2 linked regions of the Homo sapiens genome follow. The protein of the gene in region 2 interacts with the protein of the main gene of each other region in a pairwise test. Each region holds a gene or a part of one and is shown on either strand. Other genes may lie near its edges.

The links.
Region 1: the proteins of VPS4A (region 2) and ZFYVE19 interact in binary tests that used the Homo sapiens proteins (3 or more experiments, as listed by UniProt).

The regions. Positions count from the first base shown.
Region 1 is NC_000015.10:40,809,819-40,815,584, reverse strand, and holds the end of ZFYVE19 (abscission/NoCut checkpoint regulator), read right to left. Parts: intron 5,734-5,766; coding exon 5,615-5,733; intron 5,515-5,614; coding exon 5,369-5,514; intron 5,198-5,368; coding exon of another isoform or gene 5,115-5,197; exon of another isoform or gene 5,114-5,114; intron 4,937-5,113; coding exon 4,828-4,936; intron 2,887-4,827; coding exon 2,683-2,886; intron 2,248-2,682; coding exon 2,168-2,247; intron 1,873-2,167; coding exon 1,774-1,872; intron 1,643-1,773; coding exon 1,515-1,642; intron 1,438-1,514; coding exon 1,359-1,437; 3' UTR 501-1,358; downstream 1-500. UniProt on the Homo sapiens protein: Key regulator of abscission step in cytokinesis: part of the cytokinesis checkpoint, a process required to delay abscission to prevent both premature resolution of intercellular chromosome bridges and accumulation of DNA damage.
Region 2 is NC_000016.10:69,306,307-69,315,517, reverse strand, and holds the start of VPS4A (vacuolar protein sorting-associated protein 4A), read right to left. Parts: upstream 4,169-9,211; 5' UTR 4,007-4,168; coding exon 3,986-4,006; intron 1-3,985. UniProt on the Homo sapiens protein: Involved in late steps of the endosomal multivesicular bodies (MVB) pathway. Recognizes membrane-associated ESCRT-III assemblies and catalyzes their disassembly, possibly in combination with membrane fission.

The sequences.
Region 1 (5,766 bases), on a different chromosome or scaffold from region 2:
GGAGGGACATTTGCATACTCCTACTGTCTGTGTGGTCACAGCTAGTTTCTGTCAGCTGGGCTCTCTGGGAGAAAGCTGGCTGTTGTCCAATGCCTTCCTTGGCAGCCAAGTGGATAAAACCTTTAGGAGCCCCAGCTCAATGGAGTGTGGAACATATCTGTGCTGAGGGACAGGGGAGGAGAGAATGAAGTGATACACAGGAAGGCCACAACCTAAGTCACTTGGCTGTGCCCACACACCTCATCCATCCATCCATCCAAAGGACTCAAGAATTCAAAGACGAAAGTCACAGCTCCACTTCAGAGAGATCACAATCTAGCAAGGCCTCGGGGCCAAGCAGACATTATCTGCCTAAGGTACACAGCCTACTGGCATAACCAACAAGAGGGACGCCAATGGCAAAGACTAGTTTCAAATCCCAGAGAGGAAGTAACAGGAAAAACCTAGCTGGATCTGAGAGCCTCAGAAAAGGCTCTTCCAACCAAAAGTGATGCAGGAGGTAGACCTCAGCCCGAGGGCTCTTTATAGTTGGTTCCAGCCAGGGGCAGGAAGAGAAACAGCAGAGGCAATGCAGAGGCATGTAAAGGGTACATGCCGAGAGGTCAGGGGTCCGGTTAGGGCGCATTACTGGAAGAGAGATACTGAGACTGAATGGCAGGCAGGTTGGGACAGGAGCCCTAGGAGCTGGGGTCCTTTGCCAGTAAGGCAGGAAGCAGGGTGTGTGTGCATTGTTCCTGCGTGCATTGTGTGAGTAGTAGAGAGGCTGAGAAATCCAAGATGGTGGGGACTGGTGGCTAAGTGGGGCTGCCCAGAGCTGGAGCACAGTTGAGTTGAATGAATACATGTTTACTTCGTATGAGGCCACCAGGATGGGTAGGGCTGTTCCTGCCTGGAGAAGTTCATAGGATGGCTCAACCTTTTCCCCCATTCCCCACAACTGTGCTTACAGCCTGCTCTGTTCCTGCCACCTCTCACAGGGCCCAGGCTCATAGGGTTGTAGAAATGAGATGCTGGGCCCAATGAATCAACATACTTTATTAGACCCACTAAGTGCCAGGGGAGGGGCCTGTGCCCTAGAGCCAGGTTACAGGGCTCACCCGTAGATTCAGTCTGGTCTCTCCCCATCATGCCTCTCACTTCCAGTCTGGGCTTCTAATAGGAGGGCCCCGACTTCTTCCCTCCCAGTCATTCTCTCGAATGGAGAATCTTTCCTCATTCCAGGGACACCAAGGCTCAGGAAGGGGCCTATCCATCATCAGTAGAGCCAGACAAGCTCTCCCATCGGACGTCCTGTGGCTGGGCCCAGAAATGGGTGCCGCTGCCTGTGGGACTGCCCTTCCGGGAGGACCAGGGTGTCTTCAGTGCTCTTGGCCTGCACGTGGAGGAGAGTAGGCAGATGTCTGGTGCTCTTTAAGCTCAAAGGCATCATGGCCCTCTCTGTGGAACAAAGGGATACAAGTCAGGGATCCAGGCAGCCCTTGAGCTCTCGCACAGAACATTCCACCTGCACCCACCGGAAGCAGCGGGCACAGAAGAGGTCCCCATCGCAGCCAGCGCAGCGTAGGGTGGCATCCTCATTGCAGATGCAGCACCAGGGGAGCTCCTCTTCCTCAGCCTCAGGCCTGGGGTCCACATCCTGGGCCTTCAGGGATCAGAGAGGAATGGAGGAAGTAAGGTACCCAGTGGGGTATGTGAGCTGCTGCAGGAGCAGTCAGCCAGGCAGGAAGCAAGGCTGGGGGGAGCCTGGGGGTCTGCATCTGGGGCTTTTCTCACCTCAGGCTCTGCCCCGCGGGGTTGCGTCCAGGGTCGAGAAGCCTGCTCTGCAGGGATGTTAAAGCCACTTGCCTCATCCAGGGAAGCTTCTTCAGTGAGCTGCGGACAGGGTGAAGATGTACTACTCCCCTGCTTCAGGCCCAGGCCCTCCATCTCCCAGTATTTCTGTGCACTGTGGACTTAGCTTCTCAAACTCATCTTTTTCTTTACTTGTGGCCTGTGGCTGCTGATTCCCTATCTCCAGGGACCAGTGGGCAGGTCTGGGTCTGGGTCACAGGAGGGGGCCCAAAGAGAACAGGAGCTTCACAGTTACTGTCCACCCAGCCCCAGAGTAGAGGTGGGGCAATGAGGCGGAGACGGGACAAGGGGTGGCAGGTGGGTAATCCAGGCCCACCTGCTGCAGGACTCTTTGGATGGCTGTCTCCTCATCCTCGTCGTCATCACTGTCTGGGAGGCGATAGTCCTGGAGGGTCACTTGAAGAGGGAGACATGGGAACAGGGGATGGGGGAGTGAGAGTGAGAGATTTCACATGAGTGGCTGCCCTCCTGCCTCCCAGAACTGGTTCGGTTCCCAGGGGCACTTATTCCAGAGCTGAGAAGCCTCTTCAGCCACCCTGATGACCTGTCCCTGCCTGCCCCAGCCCTGCAGGGCTGGGCCATCACTGAAGCAGGCCTGAGGGCTAGGTTGGGGGCTGGAGCGAAAGCCTCAGCCCCTGAATGGACTGAAGGTCCCCTGCCCTCATGGCTGCCCCTGACTCCTCACCCACTGCTTTGCTCTACCACCTTCCTTGTGGCTCTGGGCTGGGCTCAGTAGATCTCTGGGCGCAAATACCCCCAGCACCTGACTCAGCCCTGCCAGGGAGGCCTTGACCAAGGGATACCAGTGAGCAGCTGCTCCCCAGCCTTCACCTCTCTCGGGGTCCTGTCCCCGCAGCATGGCTAGTCGCTTGGCCAGGGCCAGAATCCGTTCCTGCCTCGTGTTCTCCTCCCGCAACTCAAGTGCTGCCTCAGCCAGCAGTCTGCTCTTCTCCTCCTCCAAGGACCAGTTGGCCTGCCTCTTGGAATTAGTGCTCCCTGGGCCACCCTGGTTGAGATCATTCTGGAGAGAGGCAGCTGGAAGGGGTAATGCCATCAGCAAGGCCGAGACATCCCAGTATCTCTCCTCAGAAGCCAATGAGCCCATTTCTCAACCTTTTCTTTTCTTTTTCTTTAATAATTTTTTCTTTCTTTCTTTCTTTCTTTCTTTCTTTCTTTTTTTTTTTTTTTGAGATGGAGTCTCGCTCTGTCACCCAGGCCGGAGTGCAGTGGTGCAATCTCAGCTCACTGCAACCTCTGCCTCCTGGATTCAAGCGATTCTCCTGCCTCAGCCTCCTGAGTAACTGGGATTACAGGCACGTGACACCATGCCCGGCTAATTTTTGTATTTTTAGTAGAGACGGGGTTTCAACATGTTGGTCAGGCTGGTCTCCAACTCCTGACCTCGTGATCCACCCGCCTCAGCCTCCCAAAGTGCTGGGATTACAGGCGTGAGCCATCATGCCCAGCTTTTCTCAACCCTTTCTAATCACAGATCATCAGCTTTTTGCTCAGCACTAGCGCCTATGGTTTCTATCACAAATAAAATTAGTATTCCTCCATTTTTCCAAATGTAAAAAACTAATAATTTTACCCATGTCTTTTCCAACCACATCCATCCCCATCTACCTGATATTTTAACATTCTGCCCTAAGGGTGGGCGTCCTATGGTTTGAGAATCACTGCCCTAAAGGATCAAGACATGATAAGGCCCAGGTTCAGCCGATCTCTTTGCCTTTCAGGGCAGGAATTAGCATCTCCTGGGATTAGCACAGAGAGGGCAATGAAGGAAGCTAAGAGCTTGTATATCACTGGGCAGGAAGAATTTTACCAGATTAGGTGTGGCTCTGACACAGTCACCTTCAGTTTAGTGTTTCAGAGCAAGAGGTTTAAAATCACAGCTTTAGGTTTAAGTCTCATCTCTGCAGCTTAATAGCTGTGTGACCTTGGTCAAGTTCCTCAAGCTCACCAGGCCTGTTTCCTCATTTATAAAAAAGAATAGTATGTACCTTATAAGATTTTTTTTTTAAACAGAGTCTTGCTATGTTGCCCAGGCAGGTCTTAAATTCCCCAGCTCAAGCTATCCTCCCTCCTGCCTCTGCCTCCTTAAGTGCTTAGGATTACAGGCGTGAGCCACACCTGGCCTCATAAGATTATTGAGGATATTCAATGAGATTGTGCCTCTAAAGCAGGACTTCTCAATCTTAGTTCTCTTGACACTTTGGACCGGGTAATTCTTCATCATGATGTGCTGTCCTGTGACATAGTAGATTTAGTAGCATCCCTGGCTTCTATCCTGTAGGTGCCAGTAATATCCTCTGGGTTGTGACAACCAAAAAGTCTCTAAATGTTGCCACAAGTAGCCTGGGGGCAAAATCATCCTTTGTTGAAAACCACTGCTCTGAAGCCTTCAAACAGCACTGTCCAACAGAATGTTCTATGATGATGGAAACATTCCATATCATGTTCTATATCTGTGCTGTCCAAGATGGTAGCCATGAAGCCCATATGGCTACTGAGCATTGAGATGTGGCTGGTTTTACTAAATAGCTTCTTCCTCCTTATCAACATCATGATTGCAGAGAATATTCACTGAGTACTCACTATGAGTCAGGTATGTTCCCAAGCACTTATTGGATTATCTCGTTTACTCCTCCTGATTTCCCTGTGAGGTAGGTTTTTCCATACATACCTTCATTTTACACATGAGGAAAGTGAGACTTAGGTCAAGTAACTTGTCCAGCATCACACAGCTAATACGTGGTAGAAATGGGAATCACTGTCTGATTCTAAAGCCCGTGCACTTAAACACTAGGCTTACACTGGCTCCCTTTGGAGTAAGCACTCAATGAATGGTAACTCTTATAACGTTGATCACTCTCCGATTTATATTCATCTCCCAGAGGGTGGACAGCAGAGCCTCTCCAGTCTGGGGAAAGAGGTAGGGCAGATTCCTAGGGAGCCAAGTGGAGGGGTTACCTGGGCCTCCTCCTTTCCAGCTTTCATCGATAGCCACCTCAGCTGCCAGCTGCGTTAGCAGATCCTGTGTCTGCTGGGCTTGGGTCCTGGTGTCCGGTGTGTGATGTGCCTGCACAGACGAGGAAACCTCAGTGGAGAGCAGGGGTAGCCCAGAAGCAGTCTAGGTCAGGGATGGATGCTAAGTAGTTCTCAAAGCCCAGGGAAAGGAGAGGGATCCAGGGCCCACATAATCAAGTAGGTCTGGCCGTCCCCAACAGGACTGAGGGGCCACTTTTTCCTGCCCTACCCTATCGTGCTGTTTGTCCCTGGTCCCCGGGTCTGGTAGCAGGCCTGAGGATCAGGAGGTAGGGGTGGGAGGCTTTGCCAACTCCTGCAAAGTACATAAAGTACAAAGGTTGGTGCAAAAGTAACTGAGGTTTTTGCAATTAAAAGTAATGACAAAAACCACAATTACTTTTGTATCACCCCAATACCTGTATCTGGGCTTCTGCTGGGTCCTCCCGCTAGCACCCCCGCTTCTCTCCTAAGCCATAACACTCACCGGCTGGGGGGTTTGAGAAGGTAGAACTCTGCCCTGCAACGCTGCAAGTCGTGCCTCCATTTCCTGGGTGGAAGGGATGGAACCCTGACGTTCATCCTTTAGGGCAGCCAGCCGTGCCTCTATCTCTGCCTGTGAGGGGACTAACTCTGCAATTGGCATGGGGGGAGCCTTGTAAGGGCCAGAGGCATCTCAGTCCCAGAAGCCCTGGACTGTGTCCTCTAGGCAACCCCATCTGCCCCTGCTCACTGGGCTTGTTCTCCTGGCGGAGTCGTGCTAGGCGCTCAGCAATCATCTGGTCTTGTCGTGTCAGTCCCTGGCTCTGGGAAGTGCTGGGCTTTTGCTTGGCTTCCAAGGCTGCCACACGCCTGGCAGGATATGAGATAGAGGCTCTTGAAGAA
Region 2 (9,211 bases):
CTGAAAGGCCTCTCTCCTCCTCCTCCTGGCTCCATGCAGCTTGCTTCTCCAGGCTGCAGAGAGAAGACAGTTTCCTTCGCTGTCTAAAGTGACACCCTGGGAAGGGACGCTTACACACAATGCTCCACATACCAGTAGCTCCAGTAAGAAAAGTACTTGCTTGCTCCCTGCTGCCAACAGAAGAGAACTGTGTCCCTCTGGAACCTTCTAAGAGCTCTGTGAGAATGAGTGTCTTTGGGAATCTCATAAATCCTGTAGGCCAGTGCCTTAGGCTGAACTGAAAGCACCTACGTGGTTTTATTTATTATTATTATTTTTTGAGACAGAGTCTTACTCTATCATCTAGGCCGGAGTGCACTGGCGCGATCTCGGCTCACTGCAACCTCCACCTCCTGGGTTCAAGTGATAGATGCCCACCACTACATCCGGCTAATTTTTGTATTTTTAGTGCAGACAGAGTTTCACCATGTTGGCCAGGCTGGTCTCGAACTCCTGACATCAAGTGATCCACCCGCCTTGGCTTCCAAAGTGCTGGGATTACAGAAATGAGCCACCGCGACCGGTCAGTAAAGCACCTACATGGTTTTAAAGCCTGGTTTTAAAAACCGCAGCTTCACCAACGCCTGCACGAAGCATGACCAGAATTCTCCTCCTCAGATCCGGCACCAGTTACCAGGCAGGCAGTCCCACCGCAGACCCACGGTTCCAGGCACAGCAAACAATAAACCTCCTGACCGGCTCTTGGCAGGGCCGGGGCATTTGTTCAGCCCTCTCTTATCTGCAAGGAAGAAGTCTCCGAAAGAAACACACACAGACAGCTCGACAAAACAGACAGGCCAGGGGAGGCTGGGCCAGGCTGATGTGAAATGAACTCAGCGGATTGAAGAGATGAGAAGAGGGGTGAGTGCTGGCCATTATTTTCAAGCCTCTGCTCCCTCTACTACCTACAATGAATGGCTGGGAGCCCCAAACCTTCTTGGAAATGAGCTTAGGCACAGGCTGCCCTTGTCTGCCCTCTTCTGCATGATGTTCCTTCAGATGAGACAGGAAGGCAGCGCTCCTCTCCCTGGTGGCTTCTCGTCTCCAGAACACACACCCCCAGTACCTTGGACTTTTTCACTCTCTGTAGCTTCATGCTTGGGTCTATCCTTAGAACAATACTGAAGGTATTCTTTGTCCCATAAGGAGCAGCACTGACCCATCCCCTCCCTCCTTTTGGAAATTCTAGTAATACACCTAAGAGTGTGCTGGGGCTGGGCACGGTGGCTCATGCCTGTAATCCCAGCACTTTGGGACGCGGAGGCGGGCGGATCACCGGAGGTCAGGAGATTGAGACCATCCTGGCTAACACAGTGAAGCACCATCTCTACTAAAAATACAAAAAGTTAGCCGGGTGTGGTGACGCGTGCCTGTAGTTACGGCTACTTGGGAGGCTGAGGCAGGAGAATTGCTTGAACCCAGGAGGTGGAGGCTGCAGAGAACCGAGATCACACCAGAGCAAGAGTCCATCTCAAAAAAAAAAAAAAAAAAAAGAGTGCACTGGACTTTTCTGGCAGCCACATACAGTTTTTCACACACAGGGGGTCCAAGTTTCAATGGAGAGAAACAGTTTTACAGAACAGGAGGGTAAGGTGAGAAACTGCCAGCCCCGCCGCATCTCTAGTAACACGTATGGCAAAAGATGAGGATGAAAGAAAAGAGTGCTAATGGGGGCTGGCAAATGCTTACTGTAAAGGACCAGATGGTAAATAATTTAGGATTTGCCAGCCAGATAATCTCTGTAGCAACGACTCAACTCTACCTTGATGGCACAAAAGCAGCTGTAGACAGTATATCAATAAACGAACAGGGATGTGTTCCAATAAAACTTTATTTATAGACCCTGAAATGTGAATTTCATAGGATTTTCATGTGTCATGAAATACTGTTTTTCAAGCCATTTAAAAAATGTAAAAACCTATGACATTATGTTAAGTCATAATGAAAGAAGCTAGCCACAAAGGACCACCTATTGTATGACTCTGTTTATATAAAGTGGGTTTCTCTGTAGGCAAACCCACAGAGAAAAAAAGTAGATTAGCAGTGGTTGCCCAGGGCTGGGAGAGAGAGGGGTTGTGGGTGAGGGGTTTCTTTTGGAGGTGATGAAAATATTCTAAAAAGTGATTATGGTGATGGTCACACAACCATGAATATACTAAAAGCACTGAATTATACACTTTAAATGGGTGAGTTGCGCTGGGCACAGTGGCTCACATCTGTAATCCCAGCACTTTGGGCGGCCGAGGTGGGCAGATCACACTTGAAGTCAGGAGTTCGAAACCAGCCTGGCCAACATGGTGAAACCCCGTCTCTACTAAAAATACAAAAAAATATTAGCTGGGTGTGATGGGAGGTGCCTGTAATCCCAGCTACTTGGGAGGCTGAGGCAGGAGAATCACTTGAACCCAGGAGGCGGAGGCCGCAATGAGTTGAGATTGTGCCACTGCACTCCAGCCTGGGTGACAGAATGAGACTGTCTCAAAAAAAAAAATTAATAAAAACAAAAATATATAACGGGTGAGTTATATGGTAAGCACGCAAGTTATACCTTAATAAAGCTGTGTTTAGGCCAGACCCGTGGCTCACACCTGTAATCCCAGCACTCTGGGAGGCCGAAGTGGGCAGATCATCTGAGGTCGGGAGTTCGAGACCAGCCTGGCCAACACGGTGAAACCCGGTCTCTACTAAAAATACAAAAATTAGCCGGGCGTGGTTGCGGGTGCCCGTAATCCCAGCTACTCAGGAGGCTGAGGCAGGAGAATCGCTTGAACCTGAGAGGCAGAGGCTGCAGTGAGCCAAGATCACACCACTGCACTCCAGTCTGGGTGACAGAGTGAGACTCCATCTCAAAAAAATAAATAAATAAAATTTAAAAATAAATAAATACACCTGTGTTTGAAACTGAAAAACATTCTCGGTTCACGGGCCATAAAAAACCTGCCTGGGCAGACGGGATCTGCGGCTTCTGCTGGTGGTACGGTGGGATCTGGCTATGGACTCTTAATTCCTAACCTGGTACCCCAACTCATTCCATGTCTGCTCCTACTTCTGCCCTCCTCCACCTCCAGGTCTCTGAATGCTACTGGAACTCTGATGTCCCTTCTTCCATGAAGTCTTGCCTAACTCTCCCAGGCACTTTGTTGGCTGTCACTTAATGGACACCTACTATGTGCCAGACATACAAGAATGCTTTACCGTAATTATTCAATTTAAAGCTATCATCACAACAACCTAGAGGGCATTACCCCATTTTACAGACCAGGAAACTCGAGACCCGAAGATGAAAAAAAAAAACTAGCCCAAGGTCACTTGCTGGTGAGTGGCAGAGCTGAGATTCAAACCCCGGAATGAGGCCTGAGCATGTTGATCTCTTCTGGCCCCGCAGGACTGACAGCACCTAGAGGGTGGGTCAGTTGTTCACCCAGGTGGCGCCATCCCAGCACCACCCTGCAGGATCTAGGGAATGAATGAAGGGTCGCTGGCCGAGAAGAGGAAGTCGAAGATTGGGGAAGGGGCCGGGGCTTGTTCGAAGTGAGGTCGAGGGACTTCCAGGACCCGGGACAGGAGAGGAGGGAGCGAGACAGGAGAGGAGGGAGCGAGCATCGCTGTCTGAACGCCCAGCCGGACCCCGGGCCGAGCTTCCTGAGGGTGCCTGTGCGGCTCGGGTGAGGCTGATCCCCACGGCGGTACCGGGGCGCCGGCTACACGAAGCGGCCCTGGGGCTGGGCCAGCCGGGCAGGGCCGGAAGGCCTGAGGGTGGAGATGCCACCCGGCTCCGAGCGCGTGGAAACAGACACGGGCGGAAGCGGCGAGGGGGCGGCCGGAGCGGGGTCGCGAGGCCGGGGCTGGGAGGCGCCCACCTGACCACCCGCCCGCCGCCCGGCTCTGCGGCCCGCAGGCCCCGCTGCCTTCGGCCTCCGAAGTCGGGCCGGGCCGCACGAAGTACCTGGAGGGTTGACGTTGTCATTTCATCTCCTGGGTCCGCCCCACACCCCGCGGCGCTGCTTGCGGCCTCGGTCCGGCCCCGGGGAGCCGAGGTACTGGGTCCGGCGCGGGAAGCCCGGCGGTGGGCGCTGAGCGCGGTGCGCGGGCAGGGCGGCCGCTCGCAGCGGGAGCCGAGTCCGAGGGCAAGCGAGGAGCGCAGCCCAGAGCGGTCGGGCCCGAGCCGAGCGGCTGCCCCCTAGCGTCCACGGCTCGCACTGCAGGCACCTCTCCCTGCCTCGGCGAAGGCAGGGGGCGGTTCGAGAGGCAGGACTGACTGGGGACGAGGAGGTGGGACTAGGGCGAGACGGACAGGGGGCGGGGACGGGGTGGGTGGGACAAGGCCGGGGCGGGGCCTGGCGGGACGTACATTCTCGGGGCGGGGCCAGGGGCGGAGCGGGGTAGAATCCGGAAATCCTGACCTCGCTTGGAATAACAGCGCCCATTGAGCAGTTTTATTCTCACAATAAAACGAACTTATCAGAGCGTTGGTTTCTCCATGTTTAATATCGCACGATCATAATTAGTACCTGCCTTGTCTGGCTTTTGTGGGGAATAAATGAGCTAGCTAATGTAAACAGAGTGTGCCCCACACTGGGGCTCAATCCCTGGTGGGATGCCGCTGACTGTTCAAAGCCAGTTTTGTTTTGCTTGGATTGATTGACTGATTGATTGATACGGAGTCTTGCTCTGTCGCCTAGGCTGGAGTGCAGTGGCATGATCTCGGCTCATTGCGACCTCCGCCTCCCGGGTTCAAGCGATTCTCCTGCTTCAGCCTCCCGAGTAGCTGGGATTACAGGCATGCACACCTACTGTGTGCAGCGTTGTGTGCTAGTTTCTGGGGATACAATGATCAAAGCAGTTCTAGGGCTGGGTGTACTGGCCCACGCCTGTAATTCCAGCACTTTGGGAGGCCAAGGCAGGAGGATTGCTTGAGCCGAGGATCAAGACCAGCTTGGGCAACATAGTAAGACCTCGTCGCTAAATTAAGAAACAAAACAAAACAAACAAACAAAAAAACGCACCAGAGGCAAGTGATCCATTTGTCCACAAGTCTATCCTGTGAGAGAAAAAAAATGGAGGGCAAAAAACATCCAAGTTGAGGCTGGGTATGGGGGCTCATGCCTGTAATCCCAACACTTTGGGAAGCCGAGGCAGGCCGATTGCTTGGGCCGAGGAATTCGAGAACAGCCTCGGCAACAGGTGAACCCCCATCGCTACAAAAAATAAAAAACGTATCTGGGCATGGTGGCGCACACCTGTAGTCCCAGCTACTCCGTAAGCTGAGTTGGGAGAATTGCTGGAGCCTGGGAGGTCGAGGCTGTAGTGAGCCGTGACCAGGCCATTGTACTCCACCCTGGGAAATGAAGCAAGACCCTGCCTCCAAAAAAAAAAAAAAAAAAAAAAAAAAAAAAAAAAAAAAAAAACCAAAAAATTGGCACACCTTAATCTCTCTTCACAAAATGCTAATTAAATACAAAGGAGAGGCCGGGCGCGGTGGCTCACGCCTATAATCCCAGTACTTTGGGAGGCCGAGGCAGGTGGATCACTTGAGGTCAGGAGTTCAAGACCAGCCTGGCCAACATGGTGAAACCCTGTCTCTACTAAAAATACAAAATATTCGCCGGCCATGGTGGTGGGCACCTGTAATCCCAGCTACTTGGGAGGCTGAGACAGGAGAATCGCTTGAACCTGGGAGGCGGAGGTTGCAGTGAGCCAAGACCACGCCATTGCACTCCAGCCTGGGCGACAAGAGCGGAACTCCATCTCTAAATAAATAAATAAATACAAAGGAGAAAACAATGAGGACATTAGCTTGACTACGCGACCGAAGGGAACACCCCTGGTGGTGGGATGCGTGGCCCTCGTGTGTCTCTCCACATGATACCCTGAAGAGAGCATGGCATCGTGGCATCTCTGCCAAGAGTGTGTGACACAGCCTGGTTGTGAGGCAACACCGAATAGAGCCAGCTGGAGAGCTGTGCTGAACAATCAAAGCCTTGTGCTGAGACTCAGGCACATGCGAATTAGAGTAAGGCCGAGGAACATTCCAGACTGAAGAACTGAGACACGACGACAAAAGGCAAGAAAGTGGTATTGGCCAGGATCCAAGGCCAGAGAGGAAAACAGGACATGGCCGGGATGGCTGGCATCATTTGAATGGGGTCTATGGAATGAGTGGTGGTGTGCCAATGTTGATTTCTTGATTAGGAGGACTTTATGGTGGCAATGCAAGGACTGTCCTTATGTTTTGGAGGTCCTCACTAGAGAATTTAAGGGTGCTAGAGAATCATATTAGAGAAAGACAAGGTAATGGAATAAATATGGCAAAATGTTAACAACTGGAAGGTTTGGGTGAAGAAGATTTGTATTGTTTTTGTAACTTTCCTGTAGGTTCAAAACTATTTCAGCATTTTAAAAATTGGAAAAAAAAAACAACCCACGTGACTAAAGCAACTTTTTTATTTACAGTATAAAGGTTACAAAGGTATATATGTATTTATATATATAATACCCTTAAGTTACACATTTTCATTGTAATGTACAATGCTGTATGTTGATGTGCTACTCAAGGGGAAGTGTTGTTTATGCATCTATATTTATAGAGTATACATAAAGCTTTTTAAAATTAGGAACACAAATACTGCCCTGTTTTACGCGTTGGGTTTTTGATTTGGTATCCAGAAGATCTGAGACTTAAATTTCAAACAAGACTTAAAAAGAAGGCTTGTTTAAATACAGGGTTCTAAAAAGAAGGAAAAAACCCAGAACATCACATACTTTTAATTATTTGTAAAAGCATTATTCTAGTTTTCTAAGTCTTTATACTTAAAAATGAAAGCAGTGTGGAAAAGAATCCACATAAGCAGGTATCATCAGAGTTTGCACAGATTAGCCAAAACAGGCCTTCAATAGGTAGTGGTTTTCTACATTATCTTCCAAAAGACCTCAGGTTTGGTACCAAAAAGGACAGATTTTTCTGGGCACCAAGGTCTTATAATGCTGCACTCATCCAATGGATTGTAAACATAATACTGGAGTCGTATAGTGGAGGGAAAATTCTGAAACTTGTTCTTACGATAAGGGCAGATTTGCGACAAAGTGAGAATATCATCGAGAATGATGATCATGCCAAACCTGAAACTTAATTGACATCATCATTTCCTCTCCCCCCAATTCTATTAATTCACAAATCGAGGTGAAAAGACACAACTGACACCCGCTTTAACAGGACCCAGATAGAAGGAAAGACATTTCTTCCAACCTAGGAGGAACACACATTTACAATACTTATGTGCTGGTTTTAATAGTATACAATCATTAGCACCTGATTGTCAAAGGGTAGGTTTAAAGAACAAGACACTGAAGGCATGACCTAATTTTTGTGCACAACTCCAAGATACTTGAAAACCAAGGGGAGGGCACCCATGTGATTCGGTTTCCTGTGCCATTCCAATCACTGATAGCTCAGGTACTTTCTGGGCAATGACCAAGGATGTTGCCTGAAAAGCTAACCCTAGAGATAAATGGAAGGCAAGCTGGATAGAAAGGGACTGTTATTGTGTGAAAATTATGGAAAACATTCAGTCAGCCTTATTTTCTTTAGGTGCCCTTTTCATTGAGTCCAAATGCCAGCGTGTCCTGGAATAAGTGAAATTTTGTTAATTTTTATTTTTTAAATGTTAAAAGTTTTTTTTTTTTTTTTAATTTTTTAAATGGAGTCGGGGTCCCGCTGTGTTGCCCAGGCTGGTCTGGACCTCCTGGGCTAAAGTGATCCTCCTGCCTTGGCCTGATTTTGTTAATTTTTAAATATCTTCATTTTGATCTATCATTAATGGAGAAATATTCCGTCTACCATGTATATAAGGACTTTCAGCAGATGAAATGCTTAAATAGTTTAAGGGTGGAAATGAATACAGCAATTAGAAATAAGGGGTTGATAAAATATGCATTTAGTTTTGCTGTTACAGTTAAAGAAGCATTTTTTAAGAAAGACTTTCTCATTTATCTACTTTGTGCAATAAAACTTAATTTTTGTTGTTGTGATTTATCTTACAAAGGATACTGTATACTGTTCTCTTTCCCAAACTAAAGTCTAAATTTGCACTAAAAAAAAAATCATGCATGATGAAAAGACCAGCCTACTTAAATGTGCTTGGAGTCCTTTCATGTTGGCATGGATCAAAGCCTGAGTATCCCTTCAAACATTTTCCAGTTTGCCAGATCCAGATAAACAGACTTGTAAATATACTTTGGTAAAAATATGAAGTGATGAATTACTTAACTGCTGAATGATAAACAGATGGCATGGTGTGCTGAGAAATAACGGATTATGTGCTACTAGAGGGCAGGAACTTTCTTTTGGACCCTTCAGAATGCCTGGTGTAGAACTATACATTAATAAATGTTTATTAGATGAAAGAACACATGAATATGTCATTAATTAGCTTTCCAGTTTCAAAATTAGTGTCAATAGCATGGACGTAAGATTATTGCAAACTGAGAAAGGGACTTAGGGGACTCAGAAATTATAAATCTTTTTCTTCTTTTTCTTTTTTTGGAGATGAAGTCTCGCTCTGTTGCCCAGGCTGGAGTGCAATGGCATGATCTCAGCTCACTGCAACTTCTGCCTCCTGGGTTCAAGGGATTCTCCCACCTCAGCCTCCCGAGTAGCTGGGACCACAGGCGCGCACCACCATGCCCAGCTAACTTTTTGTATTTTTAGTAGAGATGGGGTTTCACCATGTTGGCCAGGCTGGTCTCAAACTCCTTACCTCAGGTGATCCACCCACCTTGGGCTCCCAAAGTACTGGGAATACAGGCATGAGCCACCGCACCCGGCCAGAAATTATAAATCTAACCAGGATTCCCAAACCTACAATACAATGAAATATCATTTCTCTCTTATAGGTTTTTGGTTTTAACCAATCTATTTTAAAAGGGGCAATTCAAGGATTATGGTTTATATGGTGGATTTCTGTTGAATATGATCAAATGTTCACTGGAGAACAAGCAATAATTTGCAAAAGGCATATTTATGCCTTACATTAAATGTGGATCCTCTTCTAAAACTAGAATAAGCATCAGTTCAGTCACCCAACGTGGGAAGAAAGAATAGAGGTGGCAAGAAATGAAGCTCAAGTTTGTTTTGAAACAAAAGAAGAAACTTATTAAAAGATTCTTCTGAGTT